Linked DNA regions of Homo sapiens. Changing the gene in region 1 together with any one later gene gives a genetic interaction. Each region holds a gene or a part of one and is shown on either strand. Other genes may lie near its edges.

Evidence for each region. Genes that interact genetically often act in the same process or in processes that back each other up.
Region 2: changes in CDC73 (region 1) and KRAS are lethal when combined (synthetic lethality), as found in Homo sapiens cells (2 studies listed by BioGRID, with this or other methods).

What each region holds. Positions count from the first base shown.
Region 1 is NC_000001.11:193,128,531-193,132,030, reverse strand, and holds part of CDC73 (parafibromin), read right to left. Parts: intron 1,858-3,500; coding exon 1,788-1,857; intron 1-1,787.
Region 2 is NC_000012.12:25,209,430-25,212,929, forward strand, and holds part of KRAS (GTPase KRas), read right to left. Parts: intron 2,750-3,500; coding exon of another isoform or gene 2,749-2,749; intron 483-2,748; coding exon 366-482; 3' UTR 1-365. UniProt on the Homo sapiens protein: Ras proteins bind GDP/GTP and possess intrinsic GTPase activity. Plays an important role in the regulation of cell proliferation.

The sequences.
Region 1 (3,500 bases):
CTATTGTAAATGCTGGGTATTTAACAAGACAAACAACTGTCTGTCCCCTTAGGATTTACCTTCTAATGGGAAAGACAGACACTATGTACATAAACAGATATATAATTTCAGGTCAATGTATGAGATCTGGTGAAAAATAAATCAGGATGGCACTATATAAAAACCACAGAAGGAGGAAAGGAATACTATATTTTCGATAAGAGTGGTCAGAGAAGTCTTCTCTGATGGAACAACATTTGGAAAAACACTTGAGCACAGATCTAAATGAAATAGTAAGCAAGTGAGCCATGTGATAATGTAGAGAAAGACAACTCAAGATAGAAAGAGAAAGTGCAAAGGTGCTAAGATTAGCATAGCTAAAAGACCAAAAAGACTGACTGTTATGAGCAAAGGAAGAATGGTAGAAGATGGAGTCACAGAGATTTAGGCAGAGGCAAGATGACTGCCAGGGTAACAAGTATGAGTTTTATTCTAAGAGTGATGGGAAGCCACAGGTGAGTGACACAATCAAGTTTATATACTTTTTCAAAAGCAGGACACTCTATTGCTAAGACTACACTATAGGAAATAAAGAGTGGGGACCTGTGAGGAAGCTATACAATAATCTAAAAAGCAAGGATGAAATAGGGCAGGTAGAATGGTAAGAAGTTGTCATACTTTTAAAAAGAGAAAAAAACAACTTGTTGATAGAATGGATGTGAGATGTGACAAAGATGTCACCAAAGTTCTGGCCTAAGCAACTGCAGGAAGAGCGTCTCACTACCCCTTACTAAAGTGGGAACACTGAGAAAACAACAGACTTGTTTTTGTTCTGTGTGAGGGCAGAAGGGAAAGAGGGAATCAGGCATTCCATTTTCAGTGTTAAATTTCAGATGCCTATTCAACATTCAAGGAAACATGTTGACAGTAAATTTATAAATCTGGTGCCCTGAAAGAAATCAATGCTGAAAAAAACACTTGAAATTTCATCAGCATATATATGATATCTGAGCCATAAAACTGAAAGAGATCACCTAGAGAATACAGGTTAAAAGAAAAGATAAAAAAAAAGATCAAGTCTTGGAAACTTCAAGAATTAGAGGTCAGGTACAGAAGTAACCAAAATAAACTGAGAGGTGAACAACGAGTAGAAAGAGAACCAAGAGGCTGGTGTTCCAAATGCCAAATGAAGAAAGGCTTTCAAAAATGAGTGGTCAACAGTATCAAATGCTGTTGAGAGGTCAAGTATGGTACAAGAGACCAAAGGATGTAGCAATCCTTAAATCAGTTTTGACCTTACAAGGAGTGATTTTAGTGGGATGGTAAGGATGAAGGCCAGACTAGAGTGGCTTCAAGAAAGAAACAAAGGTAAAAAAGAAGCAATGATACCACACGAACTCTTGCAGAATATTTTACAGTATCAGGGAGGAGATAAATGAAGCAGTAGACAGTAGGAATGTGGGATCAAAAACATTTTTTAAACATGAAATCTTACTGTAGGTATTCTAAAAGGGAATGATCCAGAAGAAAGTAGAAAACTGATGATGTCAGAGAAACAACAATTTACGAAGACAAAGTCTTTGAGACTGTGAAAGGAGATGGAATCCACACACAAGGAAGGGGTGACTGGCCATAAGGGCAAAGACAGTGCATCCACTGTATAAGAAAAAGGTGAGCACATGGACAAAAATGAAGGTAGGTTAATTTTTTGGTGGAAATACAAATTCTCTTCCCTCTAATCATTATTTCATAGGGGAAAAAAGAAACAATGTCTGTTTAAGACTGGGAACAATTTAAAAAGTACTCACACGCTTCACCATTGAGATATCCAAGTAGATCTTTTCGATCAGGTCTTCTAACCACAGGAATATTTTCAGTCTAAAACCAAAATTTTAAATGAGATATGAAATGAATAACAATGATACACAACTTAATAAATATTAACATGTAATGTCTGAATTTTATTCCAACATATCTTGAAAAAACGTATTTTAAATCACATTTGTAAAAAATGACTAGGCTAAAAGAACCTAATAAAAATCCTGAAAATTTATTAAACATGTTAGTTACTTTTAATAATTTTCTTACAACTTGATATTAACATGTAATGTCTGAATTTTATTCCAATATATCTTGATACAATATATTTTAAATCACATTTGAACAAAATGACTAGGCTAAAAGAACCTAATAAAAATCCTGAAAATGTATTAAACATGTTACTTTTAATAATTTTCTTGGCTGGGCGCGGTGGCTCACACCTAGAATCCCAGCACTTTGGGAGGCTGAGGTGGGTGGATCACCTGAGGTCAGGAGTTAAAGACCAGCCTGGCCAACATGGCAACACCCCGTCTCTACTAAAAAGACAAAAATTAGCTGGGTGTGGTGAAGCATGCTTGTAATCCCAGCTGCTCAGGAAGCTGAGGCAGGAGAATCACTGGAACCCAGGAGGCGGAGACAGGCGTTTCAGTGAGCCGAGACTGCACCACTGCACTCCGGCCTGGGCAACATAGAGAGATTCCGTCTCTAAATAAATAAATAAATAAATAAATAAATAAATAAATTTCTTTTTGAAATTCCAGGAAGATATACAGAAAATAATCATTAGAAATAAAGCAATGACCAGGCACAGTGGCCCACACCTGTAATCCCAGCACTGCGGGAGGCCAAGGCGGGCGCATCCCTTGAGGTCATGAGTTCAAGACCAGCCTGGCCAACATGGTCAAACTCCATCTCTACTAAAAACACAAAAATTAGGCAGGGCGCAGTGGCTCACACCTGTAATCCCAGCACTTTGGGAGGTCGAGACGGGTGGATCATGAGGTCGGGAGTTCAAGACCAGCCTGAGCAAGATGGTAAAACCCCATCTCTACTAAAACTACAAAAATTAGCTAGGCGCGGTGACAGGCACCTGCAGTCCCTGCTACTCGGGAGGCTGAGGCAAGAGAATCGCTTGAACCTGGGCGGCAGAGGTTGCAGTAAGCCGAGATCACGCCACTGTACTCCAGCCTGGGTGACAGAGTGAGACACTGTCTCAAAAAAAAAAAAAAAAAAAAAATTAGCCGGGCGTGATGGCAGAAGCCTATAATCCCAGCTACTCAGGAGACTGAGGCGAGACCCAGTCTGAAACACAAACAAACAGTGCAAGAAAAATTGGTAGCTAACAGATTTCAGTTTAAATCCTTTGTCACTTTATATGTGTAACAATGAAGTAACAACAAGAACCTTTAGTATCTTTGGCCAATGACCTTATATTGAATACTTATTATAATTTACTGCACCAAACATTCTGCACTGACTCCTCAATGATTTAGATAAACTGTATTTAATCACTTAAAAATTAACCTTTTATTTTAAAAAGGTCAAGCTAAATTTTAGTTTCTCCTTATGAGTTTAAAAATTTGAGTGCAGAGTTTTTTTGTGCTTGTATTCTTTTAAACCAGCCTAGGCCAGGCATGGTGGTTCATGCCTGTAATCCTAACACTCTGGGAGGCCAAAGTGGGTGGATTGCTGGAGCCCAG
Region 2 (3,500 bases), on another chromosome or scaffold:
AACACAGAATAGGGATGATTCAAAAGCTTCATTAATTTGTTTCACACCAACATTCACAATTGGTAAGAAAAATAAGAAGTAATCAACTGCATGCACCAAAAGCCCCAAGACAGAAATCTTAGGTATTCAGTTTCTTTTTCACAGGCATTGCTAGTTCAAAAACCAAAACTCTGGGAATACTGGCACTTAGAGGAAAAAAAAACTTCCACTGTCATTTTAAAATAAGCATTTAAGGTAAAAGCTAACAGTCTGCATGGAGCAGGAAAAAAATTAGGTAATGCTAAAACAAATGCTAATAATTTAGTGTAATGTACAAAAATTACCACTTGTACTAGTATGCCTTAAGAAAAAAGTACAAATTGTATTTACATAATTACACACTTTGTCTTTGACTTCTTTTTCTTCTTTTTACCATCTTTGCTCATCTTTTCTTTATGTTTTCGAATTTCTCGAACTAATGTATAGAAGGCATCATCAACACCCTGAAATACATAAAAAGTATTAAAATGTGAATATATACGATGGCTTCATGTGTACAGGTAACAAATTTCATTAATGGAAAAAATATTAAGAAAGGATTCTTTATGTTTCTCTTCAGGCAACTGAATATATATTACATATATTAGGACTTTTAGAATTCTTAAATGTCATCCGCATAGGTGTTTTGTCAATATTATAAACAGGAACACTAATTTTCACAAAAGACAAGGATAACCAATGGCACAGAATTTTAAATAAGGTAACGACTTTTTCACAGGAGAACTTAATTTGCTACTATTTTTTCCACATTGGCAAACCTAAGTCATCAAAATCCAAATGCATGTGTGTGTGTGTACACTTAATTGTCCTTATGTTTCTGGACTTTAGATATAAGCCATGCAACTGTAAACTATGTTCATATATCTTCACACACAGTAACAGTATTTGAGCTCCAGTTCTATACTTACGTAAAATCCATTGGATTTAAAAATTTACCAAGAAGTAAACAGTATTCGAACATCCTATTCCAATAATTTATCAACAAGTAAACAGTATCTAAACATATTATTTCAGTTTTCAAATGATATATATTAAGGGATTAGTTTCAATTCATATATTTATCATTAAGAAAAAGGTTTAAAGTGACCCCAACACAGGAGAATACCACTTTAAAAAAAACACTAATACCTCAGATTTGTGGAGAAATTAGCTAAATCATTTGAAAGGTCTTATAGTTTACCAATTTGGAGGAGATTCTTTCTATCCCATAAAGTTTTAATTTCTGTTGTATTCAAAAGCTTGCCATATAAAGCCAAATATCCTGTCTTCAAAGAGTTTAACAGTTAGTCATTGTGACCACCATCTATTTATGATTAAAGCAAGGTTATTTAAATTTAATGGCTAAAAGCGATTTTAAGCCATAATACTTTTCAACCTAATAATCTACAGTGTGAAAAATGGCACTCTCAAACTGGTAGTAGATTTTAAACCTGCAGTACTTAAATTATGCAAGATCCATACACAAGTCAATTCTTGTCATGTCTCCAATTAAAAGAAAAATATAAATAAAAGCAAAAAATGAAGAAAAAATATGATTCTCTCTGTATTTTAAAGCCTGTTCAACTGAGTAGTAACTATAAAAAGAAAATCTGTTAACCTCACAATACTTCCAAACCTAGACAGCAGAGGGAGTCTTAGAAACAAATACCCAACACATTAAGTTGTATAAATCAAGCCACTTTAGGAACAATGAAAACTGGGTTTTTACTCATTGTAATCACTTTGTAGGATATTATAAACTGTGTAAATAAATGTATTAAAAAAATTATATGTGTAAAAATATTCAAGTGATATTATCTTGAAATTAATTTAAAATGTTAAGTGGGCGGGGTGCGGTGGCTCAAGCCTGTAATCCCAGCACTTTGGGAGGCCAAGACGGGTGGATCACTTGAGGTGAGGAGTTTCAGACCAGCCTGGCCAACATGGTGAAACCCTGTCTCTACTAAAAATACAAAAATTAGCTGGGTGTGGTAGCAGGTGCCTGTAATCCCAGCTACTCAGGAGGCTGAGGCAGGAGAATTGCTGAACCCGGAGAGGCGAAGTGCATTGCAGTGAGCCGAGATAGCACCACTGCACTCCAGACTGGGTGACAGAGCATGACTCTGTCTCAAAGAAAAAAAAACAAAAAATGTTAAGTGGTATTTCTCCTTTACTGTACTACTAAGATTAACGATATTTCAAAATAAATCTGGAGCATGAACAATGAAAATTAGCTACAGTTCATGAATTTTCCTAATAGATCTATAATTCAAGAAAGCGTGACCAATATTTTAAGAGAGGTAAACATAGAATGGGAATAAGAGGCTAGTCCACATTAAGCAAACAGTAGGATAAAAACCAGCATTATTTATTTGAGCACTAGTGAAAGTCTCCAATAAAGTCCCCAAACTGCACTCACTGATGTTTCCCACTCTCTAATATCATTACTGATACTACACAAACATATGCTTTTGTTTCTCCCACAGGAGAAAGGAAAAGTGGTAAGAAATAATTTATCAGCAATACAATACCATCAAGGTTTGATTACATATATGTATGTGTATGTATCCCTTCAGGCTAAACTCTTTAACACATATAGAGGGGAAAATTTCCAATGATACAATAAAAATTATTCTGTAGCTTGCCAGCACTTGACAATTTACTTGACAGTTTAGAATCATAAACCCTTAGAATGTGATAGAATCTTAAAAGAGGATCTAACTCCCTTACCCTGAATGAATAAATTCCCTCTGATCACATCCTTATGTAATCTACTCCATTTCTACTACTTTTACAATGAAGAAAAATGCCAATGGTACTAAAATGGTAAAGCAGAAAACAATGAAAAACCATGTGATGGACACAGAGAAGACACATTTTATGGTGAAAACACAGAATTTGAAAACATTACTTCCTAAGATTCTGACAAAGATTCTAGGCTTATGTTGCAATGAACTCTCCTCTCTACATCATCTTGTTAAAATTAAGTAATTTTGGCCCAGTGCAGTGGCTCACACCTACAGTCACAGCAATTTGGGAGGCTGAGGCAGGAGAACTGCTTGAGGCCAGGAGTTTGAGACCAGCCTGGGCAACACAGCAAGAACCTGTCTCTATTTTAAAAATAAATAAGTAATAAAAAAAAATTAATTAATTTCAATCGTGAAGGAAATGTCACAACCTACACAGAGCAATGAATTCTTTTTTTCTCATATGAGAACTAATCATTCTCACACATACACATAACATTATCTTTTTCAGGACTAAGAAAAGCTAATTTATATATGTTTATCATTGTCAAATTTTTATTTATGTATTTATTTCCTAAAGGTGGGGTCTCATTACGTTGCCCAGTCTGGTCTTAAACTCCTGGCCTCAAGCAGTCCTCGCGCTGTGGACTCCTAAAGTTCTGGCATTATAAGTGTGAGCCACTGTCCCTGTGCCAAAATTTTTTTATTTTTACTTTTTTTAAGAGATGGAGTCTC